Homo sapiens: one gene and its partners. The protein of the gene in region 4 interacts with the protein of the main gene of each other region in a biochemical or structural test. Each region holds a gene or a part of one and is shown on either strand. Other genes may lie near its edges.

Evidence for each region.
Region 1: the proteins of H2AX (region 4) and MDC1 form a complex in vitro, tested with the Homo sapiens proteins (5 studies listed by BioGRID and IntAct, with this or other methods).
Region 2: of the proteins of H2AX (region 4) and PPP2CA, one has a biochemical effect on the other in vitro, tested with the Homo sapiens proteins (one study listed by IntAct).
Region 3: the proteins of H2AX (region 4) and MAPK8 form a complex in vitro, tested with the Homo sapiens proteins (2 studies listed by BioGRID, with this or other methods).
Region 5: the proteins of H2AX (region 4) and SSRP1 form a complex in vitro, tested with the Homo sapiens proteins (one study listed by BioGRID).
Region 6: of the proteins of H2AX (region 4) and RNF8, one has a biochemical effect on the other in vitro, tested with the Homo sapiens proteins (2 studies listed by BioGRID).
Region 7: the proteins of H2AX (region 4) and DHX9 form a complex in vitro, tested with the Homo sapiens proteins (one study listed by BioGRID).

Annotation. Positions count from the first base shown.
Region 1 is NC_000006.12:30,710,782-30,714,281, forward strand, and holds part of MDC1 (mediator of DNA damage checkpoint protein 1), read right to left. Parts: intron 3,403-3,500; coding exon 3,022-3,402; intron 2,937-3,021; coding exon 2,867-2,936; intron 2,574-2,866; coding exon 1,093-2,573; intron 946-1,092; coding exon 886-945; intron 724-885; coding exon 631-723; intron 1-630. UniProt on the Homo sapiens protein: Histone reader protein required for checkpoint-mediated cell cycle arrest in response to DNA damage within both the S phase and G2/M phases of the cell cycle.
Region 2 is NC_000005.10:134,216,074-134,219,573, forward strand, and holds part of PPP2CA (serine/threonine-protein phosphatase 2A catalytic subunit alpha isoform), read right to left. Parts: intron 1-3,500. UniProt on the Homo sapiens protein: Catalytic subunit of protein phosphatase 2A (PP2A), a serine/threonine phosphatase involved in the regulation of a wide variety of enzymes, signal transduction pathways, and cellular events.
Region 3 is NC_000010.11:48,404,177-48,407,676, reverse strand, and holds part of MAPK8 (mitogen-activated protein kinase 8), read right to left. Parts: intron 2,826-3,500; coding exon 2,696-2,825; intron 1-2,695. UniProt on the Homo sapiens protein: Serine/threonine-protein kinase involved in various processes such as cell proliferation, differentiation, migration, transformation and programmed cell death.
Region 4 is NC_000011.10:119,093,374-119,096,965, forward strand, and holds H2AX (histone H2AX), read right to left. Parts: upstream 2,093-3,592; 5' UTR 2,022-2,092; coding exon 1,590-2,021; 3' UTR 501-1,589; downstream 1-500. UniProt on the Homo sapiens protein: Variant histone H2A which replaces conventional H2A in a subset of nucleosomes. Nucleosomes wrap and compact DNA into chromatin, limiting DNA accessibility to the cellular machineries which require DNA as a template.
Region 5 is NC_000011.10:57,329,393-57,332,892, forward strand, and holds part of SSRP1 (FACT complex subunit SSRP1), read right to left. Parts: intron 3,464-3,500; coding exon 3,233-3,463; intron 3,095-3,232; coding exon 2,991-3,094; intron 2,889-2,990; coding exon 2,760-2,888; intron 2,498-2,759; coding exon 2,276-2,497; intron 1,536-2,275; coding exon 1,463-1,535; intron 1,350-1,462; coding exon of another isoform or gene 1,218-1,349; exon of another isoform or gene 1,038-1,217; coding exon 899-1,037; intron 747-898; coding exon 701-746; intron 1-700. UniProt on the Homo sapiens protein: Component of the FACT complex, a general chromatin factor that acts to reorganize nucleosomes. The FACT complex is involved in multiple processes that require DNA as a template such as mRNA elongation, DNA replication and DNA repair.
Region 6 is NC_000006.12:37,391,983-37,395,234, reverse strand, and holds the end of RNF8 (E3 ubiquitin-protein ligase RNF8), read right to left. Parts: 3' UTR 501-3,252; downstream 1-500. UniProt on the Homo sapiens protein: E3 ubiquitin-protein ligase that plays a key role in DNA damage signaling via 2 distinct roles: by mediating the 'Lys-63'-linked ubiquitination of histones H2A and H2AX and promoting the recruitment of DNA repair proteins at double-strand breaks (DSBs) sites, and by catalyzing 'Lys-48'-linked ubiquitination to remove target proteins from DNA damage sites.
Region 7 is NC_000001.11:182,856,347-182,859,846, forward strand, and holds part of DHX9 (ATP-dependent RNA helicase A), read left to right. Parts: intron 1-185; coding exon 186-232; intron 233-1,757; coding exon 1,758-1,894; intron 1,895-2,204; coding exon 2,205-2,294; intron 2,295-2,386; coding exon 2,387-2,548; intron 2,549-2,693; coding exon 2,694-2,771; intron 2,772-3,500. UniProt on the Homo sapiens protein: Multifunctional ATP-dependent nucleic acid helicase that unwinds DNA and RNA in a 3' to 5' direction and that plays important roles in many processes, such as DNA replication, transcriptional activation, post-transcriptional RNA regulation, mRNA translation and RNA-mediated gene silencing.

The DNA of each region.
Region 1 (3,500 bases), on a different chromosome or scaffold from region 4:
AGTGTGTGTGTGTTTTTTTTAAGAGACATTGGGGGTGGGGGTTGAGGGATGGGCTATTGCCCAGACTGGGCTCAACTGATCTTCCCATCCTGGCCTCCCATGTAACTGGGACTACAGGTGCTCACTACTATGCTGGGCTAATTTTTTCATTTTTGTGGAGACCAGGTCTCTCTCTGTTGCCCAGGCCAGTCCCTAAATATTTTCAACCTGCAGCTGGTTGAATTCACGGACGCAAACTCGCATACACAGAGGGCTCACTGTAATCAGAGTATGAAAGAAACATGTAGGAAGGCAAATCAAGAAAGAACGCAGGCCGGGCGCAGTGGCTTACGCCTGCAATTCCAGCATTTTGGGAGGCCGAGGCAGGCGGATCACTTGAGGTCGGGAGTTTGTGACCAGCCTGGCCAACATGGTGAAACCCTGTCTCTACTAAACATACAAAAAATTAGCCAGGCATGGTCATGGACAGCTGTAATCCCAGCTACCTGGGAAGCTGAAGGAAGAGAAACCGCCTGGGAGGCGGAGGTTACAGTGAGCCGAGACTGCACCACTGTAATCCAGCCTGAGTGACAGAGGAAAAAAAAGAGAATGCAGAATTGGGGACACAGAGGAGGGAAGAGTTTCTTATACCTGTTGTCTGGAAGCTGCAATGGGAAGGGCCAAGCTCTTGGGGTGGAGTCAACATGAAGGCCTGGGTAGGTTCATCCTCCATGCTCTGGACTGCTGTACAGGAAAAGATGGCCTAAGTTCATCTCCTCCATACTACTGTAGGGTTCCATTCCTGGTCTCCTACCCTACCCATACTAGCCTTTACCCTTCAAGGACCACCAGTCTAATCTCCCAGCTCCCACTGGTACAGGATTCAAATAACACAGAAGTCCTCACCTTCCAGGCCCTGATTCTCCAGAAAGCACTGGGTAGCTTGTAGGTCCAGATCTTCAGAATCTGGTCGGGGAGGAATATAAGACAGTTTAAAACAAAAATCATACCTGACACTAAACTCCTTAAATAATCTCTACCTTTCTCTCCCCAACCCCAGCTGTTAGAACCCTGGTTGATTTCAGAGGTCTAGGAAGGAAGGCCAGCACTTACCACCATAGTTGTCTTCAGAGTCCTTGGTCCCACCCACATGTTGTTCTCTCTCCCTTCCTGTGGGGACCTGGGCTCCCTCTCTCTGTGGCTGGGTGGATTCCCCTAGAGTGTCTGTGTCCACCACCAGATCTGTGAGGTTCTCTCTTGAGATAGGGAGGTCCTGCTCCACTTGTGCCACAGGTGGCCCACCCTGGGCCCCCACCTCATGAGCTCTCTCCTGCTTAAGAACAGCTGCAGCCCACTCTGCCCCAGCATCCCCTTCTGCTGGAAGCTGGCTCTTTCTTACATCTGCAACTACTGAGGCTGTTAGGGAGGTGCCCTCCTCTGCATCTGTTTCACAGTCCCCATGCAGAGGCCAGGCTTCCTCTAGAGATACCACAAGCAGCTTTGCTGGTCCCCCAACTGCTTTCACATCTGTTTGATTTGTCCCCTCCACAGACACCTGATGCTTCTTTATATGTATAATGGCTGACCCTGGCGGGACTTCCTTCTCCACTTGTGTGTTGATGTCCACTGTGGTGGAGGCTTGGCTTCTCTCCAGGTGGATCCCAGGTGAGCTCTTATCTGCTTCCACACTGTCATCACTGTCCCCAAAAGGAGGTTGGTCCTTTTCTGAATGTGCTCTAACAAGGGCTCTAATCTTTGTGTGATCCTTGAGGACAGCTTCTCTATTTTCCACTGGGAGCTCTTCCTCCTCCACGTCTGTGTCACTGTCTCTCTCAGTGGTGGTTTGGCTTCGCTGCAGAAGGACCACACGTTGGGGCATGTCCTCTTCTGCATCTCTGTTCCATATAGCAGGCTGGCTCTCTTTCAGATGTGCCAAAGTCAGCGCTGCTGAGACTTCTTCCTCGTCATCTGTATCGCTGTTGATAACCATGGAAGCTTGGCTTTTCTCCAGAGGGACAGCCTGTGGGGCCTTGCCTTCTTCCACATCTGTATCACTACCAGCCTGGCTCTCCTGCAGATGGGCCAGGCCTGGTGCTCCAGGACCCCTTGTACCTACTCCATGGAAGATCTTCCTCTTCTTCATAGGAATGACAACTGGGGTTGCTGGGATCCTCTCTTCTTCCGCATCAGTGTCGCTGTCGATGAAGCCAAAAGGCTGAGCCCTTTCCAAATGGACCTCAGCTGGCCTTCCAGGAGGCCTGCTGTCATCATCCACATCTGTGTCACTGTCCTCTCCAGGAGGTTGGCTCCTCTCCAGAATCACCCCAGCTGGAACCACCCCATTCCCTGCACCCCTCTTGACTTTTGTATCATTGTCCCTCTCCTTCACTAAAGGCTGATCCTTTTCAAGCTGGATTTCAGTTACAACTTCAGCTTCAGACTGCTTTGCCTCTACAGTGGCACCTCTTCTGGCAGCTGAGGAGGCCTCCTCTGTGGCTGGTTGCTGACCTTCTTCCACATCTGTGTCACTGTTCAAATTGAAGGCAAAAGGCGGCCCAAGGCCGCCCAGGACCGGGGAATGCCCCTCTTCATCACTGTGAAGGGAAGAAAAGAGAGTCTATAGAATTTATTTCCCTGGAAGGGATACCCCAACTCAACTGTGAGCTCCTTGAGGGGAGACACAAGGTAGCATATTTCTTCTTCTGTTTCCAATTTGTTTTCCACTTGGCACATCAGATGTGCTCCATAAAAATTCAGCTGAGTGAATGAATATGTATGGTTCCCCAGCCCCAACTCTCATGATAATCATCTCTTTTAGAGATTGATCCTCCAGCCCCTGGTTCTTCCTCATTTTGAAGACTCAGGTGTCTGACTCTTTGGCACTCACCTCTCTGGAACTATCACAGAGGAAGATGTGGTCCTTGATTTTTTTACCATACGCCTTTCAGAAAGAAAATCTGTCAAGAACAGAAAGGAATGAGTTGACAATTGTACACTCATTATTCCTGTCTCCTCATTCTCCCTGCCAATATACAAACTTACCTACTTCCTCCTCCGAGTCCTCAGCCAACAGAAGCCTCTGGGGTTGAGTTTCTCCCTGTACTCTGGGTGTCTCTTCTACTGTCAGAGGGCCCCGGGAGACAAAGGGCAGAGAGACATCCAGGCGATGGTACTGGCAGAGCAAGTCAGCAAAGAGAATCAATTCCTGGTCCCTCAGACGGTGACTCACCCCAGGGCTCAAAACCTTAGGAGGTCTCAGGATTTGAGTACCATTAAGGCTCCCACAGTCTCGGAGGATAGGTGCCTTGTCCCAGGCTAAGATTTCAATCTCTGCATGTTGTTTGGAGATAGATGGAAAGGGCAGGGCCACAGAGCAGTCAGGCATTCGGCCTACCACATTCTTCCCGAGGTGTAGTGGGAAATCTAAGAATTAGAGAGGTAGATAAGCTCCAAGATCAGAGTCCTGGCCTGTCATTAGGAAAAAGTGCCTATTAGGTACTCTACTACTCACTCAAGGCCTC
Region 2 (3,500 bases), on a different chromosome or scaffold from region 4:
CTCAAAAACAGTTAATCACATAACAGTACCAATTCTGGCACTAAAGTATACCAAGAAATAACTTGCTTCAAAATACGAGTTCCAATATTTGGGGTTAATATTCATTTTTGTTGTTAGCTACATGAAAGGGATCATGATGTAACTAAAAGCATTCTCCTAAAGGTATATTACAAGTGGTTTCGGGTGGGCACGGTGGATCATGCCTGTAATCCCAGCACTTCGGGAGGCCAGGGTGGGTGGATCGCTTGAGGTCAGGAGTTTGAGAACAGCCTGGGCAACATGGCGAAACACCCCCTCCCCTACTAAAAATACAAAAATTAGCTGGGCATGGTGGTGCATGCCTGTAATGCCAGCTACTCAGGAGGCTGAAGCTGGAGAATCACTTGAACCCATGAGGCGGAGGTTGCAGTGGGCTGAGATTGTGCCACTGCATTCCAGCCTGGGCAACAGAGTGAGACTGCCTCAAAAAAAAAAAAAAAAAAAAGTGGTTTCCTTCAAAAGAAGGTAGTCAAACACCGAAGAACCCCAAGGTCTATACTGAGGAAAAAGTGTTTGGATTAATCACAGATCAATGATTTATACTTAACTAAAGAAACCTGTTTTTTGTTTTGTAGAAACGGTGGTCTCACTACATTGCCCAAGCTGGTCTCAAACTCCTAGTCTCGAGTGAGCTTCCAGCCTCCGCCTCCCAAAGCACCAGGATTGTAGGTATGAGCCACCATGCCTAGACAGAAATCAAGTTTCTGTATCATCAATTCTGCCCTTGATGAAAAACGTCAATGCAGGCCTAACCTGTCTTCTCTGTAGCATCAAACTCAAAATCAGACACAAATAACCTCTTTACAATCTTAGTACTAATAATAGTACTATTTGACAAAGGAATCTCCATTTTTGAAAGTAATTTTACTACTAAAAGTCTGATTATTGGCCGGGCGAAGTGGCTCACGCCTGTAATCCCAGCACTTTGGGAGGCCAAGGCAGGCAGATCACCTGAGATCGGGAGTTTGAGGACCAGCCTGACCAACACAGAGAAACCTCATCTCTAATAATACAAAAATTAGCTGGGTGTGGTGGCGCATGCCTGTAATCCCAGCTACCCGGGAGGCTGGGGCAGGAGAATTGCTTGAATCTGGAAGGTGGAGGTGGCGGTGAGCCAAGACCGTGCCACTGCACTCCAGCCTGGGCAACAAGAGCGAAACTCCCTTCTCAAAAAAAGAAAAAAAAAAGAAGTCTGATTATTAATTCTAATGTTCATTGTAACTCTAGTTCAAGTAAATTTAACATTTCACATCCTTACCATATAGTTGGACAGTTCTACCAATATAAAGACATAGAAGAAACACTGGAAAAAATGCAATTAATTTTTGAATTTTATTTTTCAGTTTAAGAACTGAAATCATTTGAAAATTCTTAATAAGTAAAATTACTAAATTCACAGGCAAAAAAAATTTTTTCAATATCCCAAGAGAATTTCATTTTGTCTCATACTGTTTTTATGTCAAGATGTACGGTTGGTTTGATATGTCATTTTGATAATTGTGCAAAAAAATCCAAGGTTTGTGATAAGTTAGTGTACAGGGCTAGAGTTTGAGGCGTGGGGTGATACATGATGTAGAACATATTACTAGCCCTGGAAGCAAATGAGTTTTGAGTTAATTTCCTTCAACTATCAAACCATTCTTCATACTAATCATGTGTTGCTTAATCGCAGGGATACATCAAATTATTTAGTTGTTGTGTGAACATCACAGAGTGGTCTTACACAAATCTAGATAGTATAGACTACTACAAACCTAAGCTATTGGATAGCCTATTGCTCCTAGGCTACAAACTTGTACAGCATTTACTGTACTGAATGCTGTAGGCAACTGTTAACATAATGTTAAGTATTTGTATAACTAAACATAAACAATATAAAGTGTTACACTATGACATTACAAGGTCACCAGGTGATAGGAATTTTTCAGCTCCATTATAATTTCATAAGACCACCATCACATGCAGTCCACCACTGACCAAAATGTCATTATGTGGTGCATGACTACTTGTCTTTCATTAACTACACTGAACAGATACCACTAATATTTCACGAAACATTTCAATCTTCTTTGATTAAAATCAGTATGGTTATATTTTAAAAGTTTAACCCTCCAGGTAATATTCTAGTAACTAGTATTTTCTGTTTGGCTCTAAGGCTTAGGACCTAAATAAAAGAAAAATGTTGGGAATGAGGGATAATTCTAAAAGTGTAATAAAAGAAAATATAAAATTTGTGAGTTTTCCCATCTGTTTCTGCAATATCACCTTTGCCTCTGACCAAAAGGAAAGATCCTTAAAGCCCTATGTCTCATATGCACAATAGACTAAACTCAACCTTTACCAACTAACCTACATATGTGAATGAATTAAACACTCCCAATCATTCCTGCATAGAAAAAGAAGTTTTAATCTACTACACAACTGAGAAATGCTGCTATATATCTACTTATTAAAAAATTGTCACAATAATACATCATGAACAAGATTCAACCACTCTGGGTCTCAGTTTCCTCCCTCATCTGTGTAAGATGAATTAGTCTAGATGGTTGTTTCTTTCTTTTTTTTTTTTTTCTTTTAAGATGGAGTCTTGCTGTCGCTTAGGCTGGAGTGCAGGGGCACGATCTCGGCTCACTGCAACCTCTGCCTGCTGGGTTCAAGCAATTCTCCTGCCTCAGCCTCCCGAGCAGCTGGGACTACAGGCGCCCACCACCATGCCTGGCTAAATTTTTTGTATTTTTAGTAGAGACGGGGTTTCACCGTGCTAGCCAGGATGGGCTCCATCTCCTGACCTCGTGATCCACCCACCTCAGCCTCCCAAAGTGCTGGGATTCCAGGCGTGAGCCACTGTGCCCCGCCAGCCTAGATGGTCTTTAAGGTTGATTCCATTACTAGAATTCTACCCCATCCTAAAGCATGTCTTAAGCCTATTTTATTAAGTAAAGCCAGCCAAAAGAAATAGATAGTGGGCATTATTGCTCATTTACAGATTAGTGGCAGAAAAATAAGTTACTTGATCACCACCGGCACAAGCATTCTAAAACATTCCCTATCTAGAATTAACTATAAAGTCAATCTCCTGACTAATCCAAAACTGTGCTATTAATTAGAGCAAAACCAAACTAAGAAATCCTTATACACGAGAATAAGGTAGTGCTTTTTAGACAAAGCTCAATAGTGACAATAATGCATACAATGAAGGTTTATTAAATACTGGTTCCAAAATCAAATGTACACTGTCACACGATAGCATCAATGACACTCCATAACCTCTGTGAACTACATTTTGCAGGCCTTTGGCCAGGTAAACACATGCTACTGCTTGTCTCCCATTCTACTCCTCGTCCCCATCTAGGACAAAGGTTTGCAACCTTCCAGCCTCAACACCAGCAGGGTAAAAATCCCCATCTGTAGTAGCAACTAAATGACTAAACTAAGGCAGAAGTGGCAACACAGGGTGCAAG
Region 3 (3,500 bases), on a different chromosome or scaffold from region 4:
AATATACTAAAAACCACTGAATGGTATACTTCAAATGGGTGAATTGCATGACACAGAAATTATATTTCAATAAAGCTGTTATAAAAGAGATTCAAACAGATAGTTGTCCCATTTTTCAAAAAGGGAAATAAAGGAAATTATATCAGTTATAGACTGGACAGCCAAGCAAAAGTCAATGATTAGTAGTGGTATATAACTACTTCAAAAGAAGTAACAATTACCAAGAGCAGGTAAAAGTTCATTGAGAAATACTATTTCCTTCCATGAATAAAAACAACAAAGAACAATAGCAATAAATCAGAAAAATGCAACCAGACACAGTATATGAAGATTTCAAAATGGCATTTTACAAAATGTTTCTAATAATAACATCCATGTGAATAAGATGATGAATTGGAAACAGCTGGATAACTGTGATAGTTAGACACGTAATTTCTGCAATATGCTCAAAAGTTGCTAATGAATTAATCCAGCTATTACAAAGATATCCTGAGCAAAACTGGGAAGTGAAGCCCACAAGTGAAAAGTCAGAACAAGGAAGAAAAAAGCAATCACAGCAATCACTAGTAGACCAGGAAGAGCAACCACATTTCACCTTTGAAATTTAATAGGGAGAAACATGAAGTACTATACTTAATTCTCCATAATCAAAAGAAAAAATATAAAGACTGGGTGAGATGGGAACTGTAAGGCAGGCCTGTAACAAAGAAAGACAACGGGAGTCAGATGGGGACGAAATTTCTAAACAGGGTTTTAATGTCTACAGTTAAGAGATGACATGCCTCAGCTCCTCTCAGAGGATTTGATCAGACGTGCAGTACTGTGTGCTAGGTGGCTTATGCAGTAGTGTGTGCTAGGTCACTTTCAAAGTGTGTTCAGAGATAAACGGCCAAGATTAAAAAAGAAACTCAAGACCATCTATGAAAAGAATGAGAAAAACCAGAGATGCTTAGACCAGTGAAGAGACAATCTGTACAGAGGATGAAATTGTTTAAAAGGCAAAACACTACAAAAACATCCATCCATGGGTGAGTGGAATAATTCAGTTACCATTTCCAGTTTTCCCATATTTAGCTTTATACTCACTCACTGAACAAATATATTCTGAGTACCTACTCTTGTCCACACTCTTCTAGGTGCTGAGAGTTCTGCCTGGATAAACCTCTGCCACCCCTGCTAGAGGCCTAATCATGTGAGACATGCTTAGTCATACTCCATGCAGTTGAAGGAACCACCTTTCTTTGCAGTCACCCAGGCTTGAGAGGTAGGATTAACTGAACTCCTCCCCAAGGAAAAACTAAGGCAACACCACCACTGCCATGGAACTGCGTTCACAGGCCACAAGGGGCACGAGCAGCTCTATCCATGGACAGGATGCCACCAGCAAAACTGTGATGAGCAACACATCAAGTTCCCGCTTGGAACAAGAATGGCTACCACAACTTCCTCCCTATTATTATCTAAGTTTAATCTTTGTCTCTGGACCTTTTTTACGTCATTCTTCCTCTCTGAAGGCTCCTTTCCTTCAACAATCCAATTTTTACCCCATCTTTAAGAGTCAGCCTAGGTCTACTCCTCCCCAAAGCCTTCCCAGTTAATTAAAGCTCACAGAAATCGTCCCTCTTTTTAGATTTCAATATATGGGCCACCATCATCATTTGACAAACGGCCACTGCTTTGTGATGTTTGATATTTAACTCTCTGTATGTCTGTTTTGTATTCAAAACACCATTGTAAGCTCCCCAAATAAAGGGCCTAATCCTGAACTTCCATGATTTTTTTTTCCCTTGATAATGAACCCAGTAACTCCAATACACAGAGGCCTGCACATATTTAGATCTCAAAATGTGGTAAATTGTATTATCTGTAGTCAGAAGGTACTGTGCTCATTATATTATATAAACTCTTTTGGACAAACACTACGAAATGTCTTTAGTCAGATGCCTTCGGTTTAGGACTGCCTAAAAGTGTCCCTTACACAATTCACTCCTAGTTTATTTCCTCAACTGAAGAAATCATTCCATTAGAACAATCACAAAAGTATGAATAAGCTTAATGTAAGTTTAAAAAAGTATAACTGTTTATTCTCAAAATGAGTGCAACTTATATATCTTTATAAAGACTTATCTTTGCAATCATTAGAAAATAGAATTAGAAACATGTTAATACCCTCTAGATAGTTTCAAACACTTTCTGCTAAACCCACTATCCTCATCATAAAGTGATCAGTGAATACTGCCATCACTTAAAGAGGTGGGAGTGGGGTAGGGAGAAGTGATATAAATTTTATATTCAATATGATTAAAGTCAGAGTGTCAAAGCATAATGGGAACAATTTCATCTCTGTGCTAATGCTACAGTTTTCTAAATGTCAGCCTGACGGAGAACAAAAAGCAGAAGATGAGATCAAGCTGAATAAAATTCTTCTCAAACGCTTATCTTTTTAAAACTCCTTTTGTAAATTAAATGACAGGAAATCATATAATCTAAATTTTAGAAGCCATTCTTCTGATACAATTTAATAAAGTTGAGGAAAATCACCCTGTAGATATATATATATATATATATATCCCTTTTAAACAATGTTTTAATACAGAACAATTTAAAGCCCCTAATATTTAGTCTTTGATATTCACATATTCATGAATAAATCTTGATTTCATCTATACTTAGGAAACCAAAAATGTTCACTTACATTTTTGTGATTAACACATTTCATAAGAACTAGCTCTCTGTAGGCCCGCTTGGCATGAGTCTGATTCTGAAATGGTCGGCTTAGCTTCTTGATTGCAACATTTCTTTCAAGAATGGCATCATAAGCTGCGCTGTAATAAGAAATTCAAAAACACACAAAAAAACTTCAAGCAAAAATCTGTAAACTGAATTCATGAAACAGTCATATACATTTCTCACTTTCTCCAAAGACAAGTAACTGGATCCCTTCCAAGTCTATGACGCTCAACATGTGTCTTCTATATCTATTACAACATATATTTTTTTGCAACTATTTCCTAAAATGCTAATGGATCCAAATAGACAGTGGACTATGCCAACAGAGACCCTGCATGTTCGTTGTGTTGCCTCAAAGATCCACCTAGTACATCGTGGGCACTCAATGTACAAATCCATAATTATTTAGCTCCACTAGATAGCCTAAAGCCTAAATAAATCCTTAACCTTGTACTTCCATCAAGAAAAGGTAGGATAAAGAATGCATACGAGGCTGGGTGCAGTGGCTCACGCCTGTAATCCCAGCACTTTGGGAGGTCAAGGTGGGTGGATCATGAGGTCAGGAGATCGAGACCATCCTGGCCAACACAGTGAAACTCCGCCTCTACTAAAATACAAAAAAATTAGCTGGGTGTGATGGTGCACACCTGTAGTCCCAGCTACTTGAGAGGCTAAGGCAAGGGAATCACTTGAACCTGGGAGGCGGAAGTTGCAGTGAGCCAAGATCGCACCACCGCACTCCAGCCTGGTAGACTCCCTCAAAAAAAAAA
Region 4 (3,592 bases):
TGATTACCCCGGGAGACTGAACTGCAGGGTTCAAGCCTTCCAGGGATTTGCCTCACCTTGGGGCCTTGATGACTGCCTTGCCTCCTCAGTATGTGGGGGCTTCATCTCTTTAGAGAAGTCCAAGCAACAGCCTTTGAATGTAACCAATCCTACTAATAAACCAGTTCTGAAGGTGTTGTGTGTGCGCGTGTGGAGTTGGCGGGAAGATAGGAACAAACACAAAGCCCTTTCATCCTTACCTCAGAGGCTGGGACTTTTGCCCAGAGTTCTCCTGGTACGTCCTTTCTGCTTCTGCCTCAATAGTTTTCATTTCACACAGAATAAATTGTCTCCCAGGAACACCAAGAAACAGAGCCACAATCTTAAATTCCTATGGTTTGCCCCTTCAGTTAACAGTAGAGCCTGTTTATATTGCATGGCCCCTCCCACCCCTATTATCAGGAAAGTATAGAAAGTCACTAATTCTACAACTCTCTTGCAAAATGAAAACAAACGCTCCATTTAAAAAAAAAACAATCCTTTAATAAAATTAGTCCATCTAAAACTCCCCAATGCCTAAGGTTCTAGTCGTGGAAGGGTTAGCTGCAGAATTCCAGTTCAGAAGCCAACGGAGGCTCAGTCCAGACAGGGATTAACCGACTTGTGCTGGTATCTAGGTGCTTGGATTGCCGAGTTGAGTTTGCTGGAAGGGAAATGGGGCGGCGTCGGGGGGCCCGACAGGCCTGGCTGCCAGTCGGCTTCCGCGAAAACGACTCTTGCTGTCCACATAGCCAGCCGTGAAGCCAAACTGCAGGCCTCTGCCCTCCCCTAAATGTCCTCCTAGGAGGCAGTCACTCGGGAGGAAGATGTGCCTGTTACCAAGTGCTTCGTCCCGGCCCCAGCGCAGACCTATGAATGAAGATGGAGGGAGAGCTGATGTGAAAGGCCTGGGTCCCGGCCGCAGAAGGGGCGCCAGACCGAAATCGGCGATCGCGTCTCTCCCACCAAAGCCTCCCGGCCAGCGGCCGCGTCTGAAAGTCCTGGGCTAAGCACCACGCCGGGGGGGTACCAGACACCCCGGCTGCAGCTGCCGAGGGCCTCACTCACCTTCAGGGCCGCCGGCCTCTCGGCCTGGACTGCCCACCTCGGCCCTGCGTCAGAGCGGAAGGCCAAGTCTTCCAGAAGGTGCTGCGGCCTCCCCGCAGCCCCTTAGCGACTCGGGATGGGGCGGCTGAGTCACGAACGCCGAGGCGGGCAGGTGCGGCGCCGCCGGCCTCCCCCCGGCAGGCTCGGGTCTTCCGCGCCACGGAGGTCCCCGAAGAGCGCCCAAGCCGCATCCGGAAGGCCCGAACCCTACCGGAGGGCGGACGGCGGACAGGGCAGGGCCCGAGGCCGACGCGGCAGGCGGTGCGGGACGGGAGCGGGGGCGGGCGGGGACTCGAGGCCGGGCGGCGAAGGCGGGCGAGGGGAGGGGAGGGGAAGGGAGCCGCGGCCCGCTTGCCCCGCAGTCTGAAGCGGCTCAGCTCTTTCCATGAGGGCGGTGGTGGCCCTTAAAAGGGCCTTTGTGGTGGCATGGGGAGGCCTGGCGGCCGGCCGCGGCGCGGGCCCTCTTAGTACTCCTGGGAGGCCTGGGTGGCCTTCTTGCCGCCCGAGGGCGCCTTCGGCCCCACGGTGGCGCTGGTCTTCTTGGGCAGCAGCACGGCCTGGATGTTGGGCAGGACGCCTCCCTGGGCGATCGTCACGCCGCCCAGCAGCTTGTTGAGCTCCTCGTCGTTGCGGATGGCCAGCTGCAGGTGGCGGGGGATGATTCGCGTCTTCTTGTTGTCGCGGGCCGCATTGCCCGCCAGCTCCAGGATCTCAGCGGTGAGGTACTCCAGCACTGCCGCCAGGTACACTGGCGCGCCGGCGCCAACGCGCTCGGCGTAGTGGCCCTTCCGCAGCAGCCGGTGTACACGGCCCACTGGGAACTGGAGGCCGGCGCGCGACGAGCGCGACTTGGCCTTGGCGCGGGCCTTGCCGCCAGTCTTGCCGCGGCCCGACATGCTAGCGAGGTAGACCGGTGAAGCACGACGGCTCAAACACTAGAACAGACGCCCGCCGCAGTGTAACTGCTGTCGCGCGCGCGCCGCGAGGCCGCCTTTATAAGCCCCCAGGACACACCTCTGCGCCCTCCTGATTGGCTCTTTTCTCCAATACCCGCCTCCGGTTGGTTGCGGTTAACCCTTGGGTGTCGCGGCTCGGCTGAGGGAGCGCGCCCGCTGATTGGTCGAATTTGAAAACCTTTTGCCCGGGGAGAAAAGGCGAGGAGGAGGGGTAGCACGCAGACTGCCAACTATCCGCTGATGTAGCCAATCCTTGTAAAGCGCGCGAGATTTAAACACTACAATCGGAAACCAGAAGCGGAAGACCAAAGGGGTGGAGTCTGAGGCCACCTAGAGAGCGTCTGGGAAATCTGTGCCGGCGTAGGATTTTTAAAGGAAAGGGGTCAATATTATAGCTACTGCAGCCCTCCTTTCCAGGTCCAGTCACTCCCTACTCCCTTCTCCTACCTGACAAAGGGAGAATGGAAAAGTGAAGAAATTAGACCCCTTAAAAGTTTTCTTTTTTTTCTTTCTTTCTTTTTTTAATAGACCGGGTGTCACTGGCTCTGTCACCCAGGCTGGAGTGCAGTAGTGTGATCTCAGCTCACTGCAGCCTCGAACTCCTGGGTTCAAGGAATCCTCCCTGCTAAACCTCCCTCGTAGCTGGTACTACAAGTGCTCCACCACACTTGGCTAATTATTTTATTTTTGTAGAGACGGAGTCTCGTTTTGTTGCCCAGGCTGTCTTGAATTCCTGGGCTCAGGCAATCCTCCTGCCTCAGCCTCCTAAAGTGCTGGGATTACAGGCATGAGCCACTGCACCCGGTGACTCTTTGAAAGTTTGTTCCCATGCCAGGAAACAGGATAACTTCAATTTTGTGGCCCTCCATGCCACCTCTAGTATCAGGATTTAAATATTTATTCAATATGTTCTGTTTGGTCTCAGTTCTGTTCACTTCTTGTTAGACGGGGTCTGATGGGGCAGAGAGATAGGCATCCTGTTGGAGGAAGTACCCCCACCACCCCTCCCAATCTACCCAAAAATGCCCATATAGGAAATATACCTACATAAACAATAAGAAAAAGACAACACTTTATTGTCTCCATTGAGAGCATGTGGCCCCCTGCTTAGTTCTTACTAATCAGAACACTTAATTTACAATCAAATGACATGTCACCGTGGAGCCTGTGTTCCTAGCCCTGGCCCAAGTTCTATCCCAAAAACCAGTGGTTCCTTGAGAGTCAGGACTCTGAAATGTGAGTGTGGATAACTGCAAAAAAAGCTGCTGTATCCCACCCTATGAGGCTGCAAAGATGGGATGGAGAGGGAGAGAGTAGCAAGTTGCAGAAAGCCATAGGTAAAATCCAATCAGTAGTCAGCAGAGGGCAAGAAACGCCCAGGATGCCAATGATCACAGAGAAAGGAAAATGCTGAGAACAAAATCTGGAGGAGTATGAAGAGTGAGAGAGGCCTGGGCAAGGAGGCAGTCTGGGACCAGAGAGAGAGGTCAGCCTGAGTCAGGAATCCTAGA
Region 5 (3,500 bases), about 62 Mb from region 4:
ACTCAGGCTAGAAAGGGGCAGGTAACCACTGTGTTCACTATGCTGTTCACCAAAAGAGGCACTTCTGGTGTTGTTTTAAACCAGTAGGATTAAGCCTGCCCTGAGCTTCTGAGAGTCACTGGGCACCCCATGGGGTAAACCTATTTTTAATTAAGGAAATCGGAAGAAATAGATTTGAGCGCCTGAATCCAGTAGTGTCTGAAGCCAATTAAATCCCCAGACTCCGCAGTAATATGAACTTATGAAATTCCCTTTTATATGTTCCCTTTTAAAGTGAGAGTGAATCACATTTCTGACACTGCTAACAAAAAGTCTTAACCAATTTAGCAGGGGTACTACTGCATTTCTACTGATGAGGAAATTGAGATTCAATGACTTACTCGACAACCCCCAGCAAGTAAGTGGCAAGCACCAGCTCATTCCCATTCTCTCCTCATCCAACTACGAACCAGCCCCAACTGGCACATTCAGGGCGGTATGGCCATAGATCCCACTATACTTTTCCGACTTCAAAATATGTCTTGCACTTACAAAGCCCTTGACAATTTCCAAAACATTTTCGTATATCACCTCATTGGAGGTCACTCTCCCATTCTGGGTCAGTAGCTAATGCTGGGACCTGAGAAATGTCCAGAAATCTTCTGGTCCCTTAAGCTTATGGGTCACCATCTTATCCCCACAAGGTACCACCAAAACTCACTCCTCTGCCACATCTTCCTCCTCTTCACCTGGGTTGAATGACTCATCTGAAAAAGGGCACAGGATGCATCAGCTTCTGCCCCAATGGAAATCCCCCCACCTCACCCAGGCACCCAGCTCTGGCCCAAGGGTGAGTCCAGCCCGGGCCACAGCGAGGAGCGTCTGACCATCCTCGTGCTCAGCACGGAGGCTAACCCACCGGTTTCTTCTCCTGAGTCATCGCTGCTGTCATTGGCATTCTCCTCCCGGATCTTGCCTTCCTCCTTCATCCTCTCCAAGTAGGCATCATGCTGGTCCTCATCAGAGTCAGCATATTCATCGTAGCTTGGGTTCATGCCCTAGCCAGGGAAGAGTTCACGGTGGGGCCAACTCACCCTCGAGCCAGAATCCCTGCACACTCAAAAGCACACCCCCATGCCTGTCAAGTCAGAGCAGCAGCTCCCAGAAGACCTGGGGCTGGATTGTCCACACACAGCCAACGTGCAGGGCCTATGCCCAAGTACTTCCTGCCAACTGGGTTAGTCCAAGCCCCAAGCCCCTCCCTCTCCCAGCCCCACTGGGGGCTCCTGAGGGGCTGCATAGACTGGTCTAAGGTCATGCAGAGGAAACCTGCACCAGGAGGGGGAAAGGGTCACACGCACCTCTTTTTTCTATAAGGGTAAGAAGAGAAGAAAGAGTGAAAAAGAAGCCGGAAAAAATCTCCACCCCTTTCTCCCCTATAGAAAGACCAGGAGAGGGTCTCATCCTCCCCACACAGAAGTACCTCTTTCAATCCTCGGTTTTTGATGTTGAGCTTTTTCGCGTTGACAAAATCAAACAGTTTCCCGTACTCCTCCCTGTGAGGGGACATGCACCATGTTACCAGAGAGGTAGTGCCAACACAGGGGCACACTAAACAATGTTCTGATTCCATGAGCTGGGGTAGACTGTGGAGCCTGGAGCTCTTGACTATGCTACCCAACCCAACAGCTTAGAAACCCCCAGAGGACAGCAGTAAGGCAGAGCCAGAGCCAGACATTAGTCCTGAAAGAACTGCATGGCTTTGAAGAACTCTGGGAAAGGAAAGGCAGGGAGGGGTGCGCATCTGTTTACAAAATAAGCTCAGAGGGGAGTAAGTGTGGGGCAGGGGACGTGGTCATCTTTTTTCATACTTCACAAGGTTGATATGAGGATTACACGTGAAGATGCTTATAAAACGTTTAGTCCACAGTGAGCACTCAATAAGCATTAGCCGCTATGTTCTCAGGCACAAAGCTCATTCCAGGAAAGAAAGAGATAGCATTTCCATCATGGTGGGGAGTGGAGGAGAAAAAAGACCAGTAGCGAAGACATATAGCTTTCAGAATACGGAAAAAGTTTTTTTTGTTTTGTTTTGTTTTGTTTTTTTAATGACCAGAAAGAAAGCAATGGAGAGGTTTCTAAAGTCTGAGCACTCCAGGGAAAAGGACCAAATCCTGATGTAGCAAAAGAAAAATTCTGCTCTAGGGTTGGAGAGTGCCCCAGGCCACGCCAGCCTTCCTAGACAAAGCTGGCTCGGGACCAGGATGCCCAGGAAGTGACAGGTGGAGGTTCTCACCTCTCAATGCTGCTGAAGGTATACTGAGTGCCCTGCTTGGTCTCAATTTCAAAGTCAAAGGAACGAGTAGTAGTGGTACCACGAGCAAAGTTGACAAAGGAGATCTCATCGAAGCGGATGTGCACAGGTGGCTTGTGGACGTAGATGAAGCCCCGCTCCAGCGGGTAGAGCAGTCCTGAGCTTGCCTTGTAGGAACAGGTAATGCACTGGGCCCCTGAGTGCCTGACAGAGGGTGCAGGGAGCCTGGTTAGTGCCAACCTCAGCAGAGGCAAAGGGCGTATCTAGCAGCAGCGACACGAGTGCTCATGTCCTCGACTAAGTAAACCTCACTGAGCTGTTCTGACAGAGGCGCTGGCACCTATTGTGACACAAGGTCCCATCCAGGCCTCTAGGAGGCCGCATTCCCATCTCAGGAAGGGTTTACCAAGGAGACACGGCATTTCCCATACCCAGGCAGGGCAGGATCCCAGGCCCACACTCTCACCCTTGGAAGTTGCCTGGCACTGTGATCTTGCGGTTTACCAGTGCTTTCATGACCCGGCTGACCATCTCATAGAGGGATCCTGACATGTTCTTGGTGAGCCGACCCTCAAAGCGCTTCTCCACTTCTTCCCTACAAAGAAAGCAAGGTGAGGTCACAACACTACTGCCTTCTAATGGCACACCTGTCTCCTGCCTGGACAGTGGTAGGAAACGAGTCCAGGGAGACACTCACTCGTTCATGTTCAGAGTCAACGAAATGTCCTCGTCCTTGGAGAAGAGGAGGATCAGGAAGTGGTAGCGAGTTTGGCCTTGCTTGATTGGGGGATCCAGGCTGATCTAGTAAGGAAGAGTACTAATTGACACTCTACAACAACTTGCAATTAACCAACGTAGAATTCTGCACACCAGTGAGATCCATCTACTTAACACTTAGGCAAAAACCAGGATTATCCGGCCATAGGGGTTTCTGCTTACCACAAAGAACATCTGGCGCTGGTCCTTGTGGGGTAACAAAAACAGACGCAGTACTGTGGTGTAGGGGATCTTGTAGTCAAAGGTCTTGCCATGCAGGTGCAGAAAGGTGGGGTAGATCCGAATGTCATAACGACCACGAGGAGTCAGACACTGCAGCTCCCGGAAGATGCAGATGGCATCTCCCGTGGCCTGGATTACATCCGCCTTTGACAACACATTCTGGGCAAAGGCCTGCAAAAGCACATATTGGTAGCCAAGCAGCAGGCCC
Region 6 (3,252 bases), on a different chromosome or scaffold from region 4:
TGGGTGCCTGCCTACACAGGACAGTGGTATGTGGTGCTTCAGGGCCTATTCTCCATGCTAAAAGGCCAAACTTGCCCTGAAACCTGCCACAGAGATGCCCTTGAAGGCCCCTGGGTAGAGCTGGGTAGAGGCCCAGGACAGCTTGATCTCTAAGGAACTGGTCCCTACATCCTGAGGGCCGGTGGGTGGTGGTAAAAGCAGCAGGCTGCAAAGGCTTGGGCTACCCAGGTCCTAGAGATGTGAAACGCCAGTTCTGGATCTTGGGATGGGCCAGCGTAGCCTGCTGGATCTCCTGCGTGGAGGTTGAGGAATGTGAGGAAACACCCAACATTGCTACCTCAGTAGGTAGCAGTGCGTAACCCCCTCCCACAGCATCTCATAAAACCTTTGAAACGCTTTTGACACCTTTCTAGAACATCAGCTCACAATGGTTGTGTTTTGCTCATTGCCATACCAAACACCTAGAGCAGTGCCTAGTAAGAAAATGGGCATTTGATAACTATTGCTGAATTGAATTTATTGAATACATGCAGAGTACAAACGGCCCCAAATCACAGCAGGTTGAAGTATTCACAGAGCCTGAAGGAAAGTGGACAGCAGAGATAGTGGCTCTGGAAATTGGATGAGGTGGGCATCTGGAATGTAGTAAAGCAGCAGCAAGCAGGAGATACTGCTTGGCGACTAGATGAGCTCAGGTAGCCCATCACTGGTACATTGTTTGGGGATGCTGTAGACAAAGGAATGACAGCATTGGAGTATTTATTGAATGCCTATCACAGGCTGAGCCCTTTCCTAGGATTCATATGCTTTTCTCAATGGAAGAATCAAGAAGATAGTTCATTATTTCTCCTTAATACAAGGCCCCATCGTCTTCCCAAGAACCCCACACTCCTACTGCCTCAACTCCCATTTGTTGGAGAAGCTGAAAAAGCTGACCAGGTAGGAAGTTTCTTTCTCTGAATGAAGCTAACTAGGGTTCAGAACAAGCCCTTGACCTATTGTGACCAATGGCAGATCCTGTTCCAATCAGGCCCCACACCTATGAACAAGTCTGTATCTCAGAGCAAGAGACAGATAACAATTCCAGGATTCTCCTGATCTTAGATTAGGACCACAATACAAAGTAGACATTCCTTCTTACTTTCTATGTCAAATTTAGCTAATCACTGGATTCATCAGAAGCCTAGGGGGTTCAGTGTCGAGATAAACATACCTAGGACACCCCATGTTTCTGGGTTATCCTTAGATACGATGAGGTGGAGAGATTCCAGTCACAGAGAGAGGCTGTAAAGAGCAAGCAGGCAGTTGGAGAGAGCTACCAATCCCAGACACTCCAGCAGTTATGGTGACTGCCTGGATGGTCACTCACAGAGGAGGAAAAAGTAGTGAGAGAACTGGAGACAAGGGGGAAATGCAGGTCTTTCTGTACAACAGCAGCTTCCAATCAGAGAAACAGATGATGGGTATCCAGCTATGCAATCCACAAAGGACAAAGTCCCCTGCTTTGGCACAGTCTGATTGTTGGGATGAAACATGCCTAGAGGTAGAGTGAGCCCTTTCTAGGTTAACATAACCAGATATGGGACACCTGCCATTCACTGCAAAGTGCTTCATATAGCTGGCTGCATTCATCTGCTTAATAAAACCAGATAATGAAACAAACCCCCTTTTCCAGTTCCCCAGAGCCCTGCTGTAAAGAAGGTGCCTTTAATTAGAGTCAGACTGCACAGCACTGGGGCTCAGCTGTACTATAGTTTGATGCTGCAAGGCAGAAAAGTTACCGTGTATTTTCTAGGCAAGTAAAATGCAGATGATGTTTAATATCAGATATCTCTCCAAGGAAAGAACATTCTGTAGCTCAGACAAATAATGCAAGTTTGGGTTAATTTTTGGTTTGTCTTTTAAACATAGTACATTCAGGCTTTTGTTTGTGATCAGGGCAATAATGACAGATATAATTACTTAGAGATGAAGAAACCAAAACCAAGACACAAGGAGGCTGAGTAACTTGCCCAAGGCTCACACAGTTACTAACAGCAGGGCCAAGATTCAAACTCCGCTAGTCTGGCTTTTAATGTTGTTGTATTGATTTATTACTCTTTTTAGTCTGTCTTTAAGAGCTCACTTTCCTAGATGTTGTGGAACACTTGAGAGGGATGTGGTACTCTGAAAGGAGGGGCTGCAAATCACTCTATGTCCAGCAGCTGTGGGATGGAATGGTCAGTCTGTGAGGTCAGTCTCTGTACATAGTCTTCAGGCTCAAGTCAAGATGTCTCTTCTTGGCCAGGTGCAATGGCTCATGCCTGTAATCTCAGCACTTTGGGAGGCCAAGGTGGTAGGATTGCTTTAGCCCAGAATTTCAAGACCAGCCTAGGCAACATAGTCTCTATTAAAAAATAATAAAATAATTTTTAAAAAGGTATTTCTTTTTAAAATATCTTCTCTCTAAAGATATATGTACAAGGGTGTTAACTGCAGCATTGTTTTAAGAGTAAAAAGGTTTGAACCAACCTAGATTTCTATCAAAAGTAAGCCAGAAAAGTAAATGATGGTGCAAATACACAATGAAAAAACAGGCAGCTGTAATAAAGAAAGGAAACTATGTACTGACATGGAACTGTTGCCAACATATATCTGAAAAAAGCAAGGTTCAGAATAGCGTACAGTTTACCATTTGTGCAAAGCAAGGAAAAAGACCACATGTGTTTTTGCTTGTATAGACAGAGATCTCTGGAAGAATATACAAGCAACTGTAATACTTGTTGCCTCTGAGTGGGAAGTAGTCGCTGTGGGGAAAGGGTGAGAGGCATTTCATTCTACGCCATTTTGTACCTTTAATTTCAAACTATGTGAACATATTGCCTACTCAAAAAGTGTATGTCTGTACTCTCTTAAAAATGAATTACAATATGTAAACTAAACACAGAACATATAAAAATTGACATATACCCATGCAATCTATAAACAAAACACATGTATGGGGAAACAAGAAGTTATTAAATCAAGGTGGTAACAATCTTTTCCTTTTGTTCTCTATTTTTCCAGAATTCTTATGATGTGGTTATAGTAAGTACTTTTAAAGCATTTTTTCCACATTTAACTTACTTCCTCCATGACTCTACCAGTATTTTGATCAGTAATCATGGGCAGAAGAATGGAAATGAAGACTAAGGACTCCAGAATCCCAAAATTCACAGTATATTCAACAAAGAAAAAATCCCTACCATCCTTAAAAAGTTGGCAATCAATAGT
Region 7 (3,500 bases), on a different chromosome or scaffold from region 4:
CATGTTGTATATTATTTGAAGTTTATATACTTCATTTGTTCTAGGGTTGGGCAGAAATAAATGTTGGTAATTTTTTTTTTCTGTGATTTGCCTAAGCAGTTGGAAAGCCTGCCTGACTTGGGAGACCTGGATTTGCTGGTTTCTAACAGTGAAATTTCTAACCTTGCTTGTATATGTTGTTACAGGAGCTTTATTGCAGAAATGACCATTTATATCAAGCAGCTGGGCAGAAGTAAGTGTTACTGTTTCCCCAATATTCCAAGTCTCTGTATAGAGAAGGAATCTTCACATTTTAAGTCTTGAGTCACGTATACAGAAGCTGTATTATTTGAAAGAGCACATAATGTAAGATAGCATCTAGGGTATATTTTAGAATATTAGTAATTATATAAATTAGAGGCAAAGTCTCCCAGTTTGCATGTGAAAACAGACCATGTTAGTGTAATCTTTCAAAGGTAAGACACAGTGGGATGATTAGGAGTCTGCCAGTGTCAATTAATTTTAAACCTTTTTTGTTTTTTGAGACGGAGTCTTGCTCTGTCGCCCAGGCTGGAGTGCAGTGGTGTGATCTCGGCTCACTGCAAGCTCCGCCTCCCAGGTTCACGCCATTCTCCTGCCTCAGCCTCCCCAGTAGCTGGGACTACAGGTGCTGCCACCAAGCCCGGCTGATTATTTTTTGTTTTTAGTGGAGACGGGGTTTCACCATGTTAGCAGATGGTCTCTATCTCCTGACCTAGTGATCTGCCTGGCTCAGCCTCCCAAAGTGCTGGGATTACAGGCGTGAGCCACTGTGCCTGGTCTTAAACATTTTTTCATTTTTATATATACAATGAGTTATTTTGAGTGGATGGATAATACTAAGGGAGAGAGGATAAAGGCAGGCTAACTTCTGTCAGCTCACTTACCTTATCGAGGTTAATTTGGCTAGTTAGGCAGAAAGATACCTTTGTACCCCTTTGCTTTATATTCATCTCTCCTAAGGATGAATGATACAGGAGGAGAGGAAACTTTCTGTTAATATTTTCTATAAGGATATGAGTAACTTAGCTTTAGTTTAATGCTAAGGTCAGCAAACTATAGCCCTCTGGCCAGATCCAGCGTACTGCCTGTTTTTATAAGAACTGTTTTATTGTAACATAGCTACACTCACATTTTAGACTTTACAGGTCACACATTGTTATTCTCATTTTATTTTTACAACTCTTGAAAAACGTAAAGCCATTCCCAGTCCTATGGTTTATCAAACTCTGTTGTCAGTGACTGCTTTCACACATTAAAGGCAGAGTTGAGTAGTTGTGACAAGATACTATATGGCCTGCAAAGCCTAAAATATTTATTAATTGACCGTTTATAGAAAAAGTTTCCCAAATCCTGGTCTAGGTAACCACTCTGGACCCAATTACTTTTACTGGTTTATTTTTTACTCTTTGTCTTTTCAAACTATGTTTTCTTCCCCATTTTAATGTCTGATATTAACAGTGACAACTTTGTTGAAATAGGTTATTTGCTTTCATAATATTGATTTGTATGAGTCCTAGTATCAGCCAGTAATCAAAACTGTTGGTTATTTAGTTGATAAGCTGTTTGGCAATTTCTTTTGTTTAGCAGATATTAATAGAATAAAAAGGAACTAGAAGCCATGGCATACCCTGTATTTTAGGGCTTCTTGTGTACGTAAGCCCATAGTTTCTTGTGATAAGATGTTTCTTTACTCAGATGATTTCTTTCTGTCTGATAATCCTGACCTTACATTATAGGGATTTTTGCACGAGAACATGGATCAAATAAGAAATTGGCAGCACAGTCCTGTGCCCTGTCACTTGTCAGACAACTGTACCATCTTGGAGTGGTTGAAGCTTACTCCGGACTTACAAAGAAGAAGGAAGGAGAGACAGTGAGTCTTTAGATTTAATAGACTTGTGAGATAGTGTGAGATTCAATTTAGCTCTTGTTTAGTGTTTGGCTGAAGAAGTTTAATTTTAAGAATCTTACCTCAGGAAATGAAAATGGCCCTGCTAATCATCTCTGTGTCTGGCATGATGTTCATAATAGGCAGTGAGTAAATAATCATTGAAGTAATTCTCTCACAAAAGGGAACTGACTATTGGTTTAGGAATATTGTAGACCTAGTGTTGACTGTATAGTCTTAGCCCCATTATAGTAGATTTGAGTAGTGTTGTTAATGTGTGATCCTTTTTCCATAGGTGGAGCCTTACAAAGTAAACCTCTCTCAAGATTTAGAGCATCAGCTGCAAAACATCATTCAAGAGCTAAATCTTGAGATTTTGCCCCCGGTAAGCATAAAGCTGTTTAGTTCACATTTACGTAGAACTCTCCGTAGACAAGCAAATCATATTTTTTGTTTGTTTTTCTTATTTTTTAATAGCCTGAAGATCCTTCTGTGCCAGTTGCACTCAACATTGGCAAATTGGCTCAGTTCGAACCATCTCAGCGACAAAACCAAGTGGGTGTGGTTCCTTGGTCACCTCCACAATCCAACTGGAATCCTTGGACTAGTAGCAACATTGATGAGGGGCCTCTGGCTTTTGTGAGTGCAATATTGTTTTTGAGATCAGAGTCTTGTGTTTTACTCTTGAGACTATATTTGATTAGTATGTCTAGGTAAAAAATGGATTTATTTTGAAGCTGAATTATGTGCTTTTGTTTGACTATGTTGGCTTTTTGTTTTACAGGCTACTCCAGAGCAAATAAGCATGGACCTCAAGAATGAATTGATGTACCAGTTGGAACAGGATCATGATTTGCAAGCAGTAAGTCTGAATTATTTAGACAAGTAGTGCTCAGAGCTTCAGAATGTTCTAGGTATGGGTAAAAAGTCAATGAGCAGTACATTTTGCCCTTTTAAGGAGGGCATATCAAAAGATATGTACCAAACTGCTAATCCTAGTTACCCCTGAAGTTAGTTGCTATGAGTTGAGGGCCTGTGAGAGAATTTCACTTCTTAATGTAATTTAATAAAAGTGGAGAGATTTAAGGCAGTGACTCCTTTTGTTGTTGGTTTTTTTGTTTGTTTTAGTGTTTTCCAAATAAAAAATTAAAATGTTAAAAAGAATGCGTGTGCGACTTTCAGGGACAATGAGAATTTAGTTTTTGGACAACATCAAAAGATACATTCTTCAGAAGTGTAGTGAAAAGAAGTAGTTCTATTAGAGATATAAATATACACATTCTTTTTTGAAAAAAACATTTTCATCACTAAGCCAATGGAAATGAGTAAGTTTTTATAGAGATGGAAGTTTGGTTTTTTTGTTTGTTTTTTTCTTGAGACAAAGTCTCGCTTAGTTGCCCAGGCTGGAGTACAGTGGCTCAGTCTCGGCTCACTGCACCCTCCGCCTCCTTGGTTCAAGCAATTCTCCTGCCTCAGCGTCCCAAGTAGGTGGGATTACAGGCACACCCCACCACACCTGGCTAATTTTTGTATTTTTAGTAGAGATGGGGTTTCACCATGTTGGCTAGGCTGGTCTCGAACTCCTCACCTC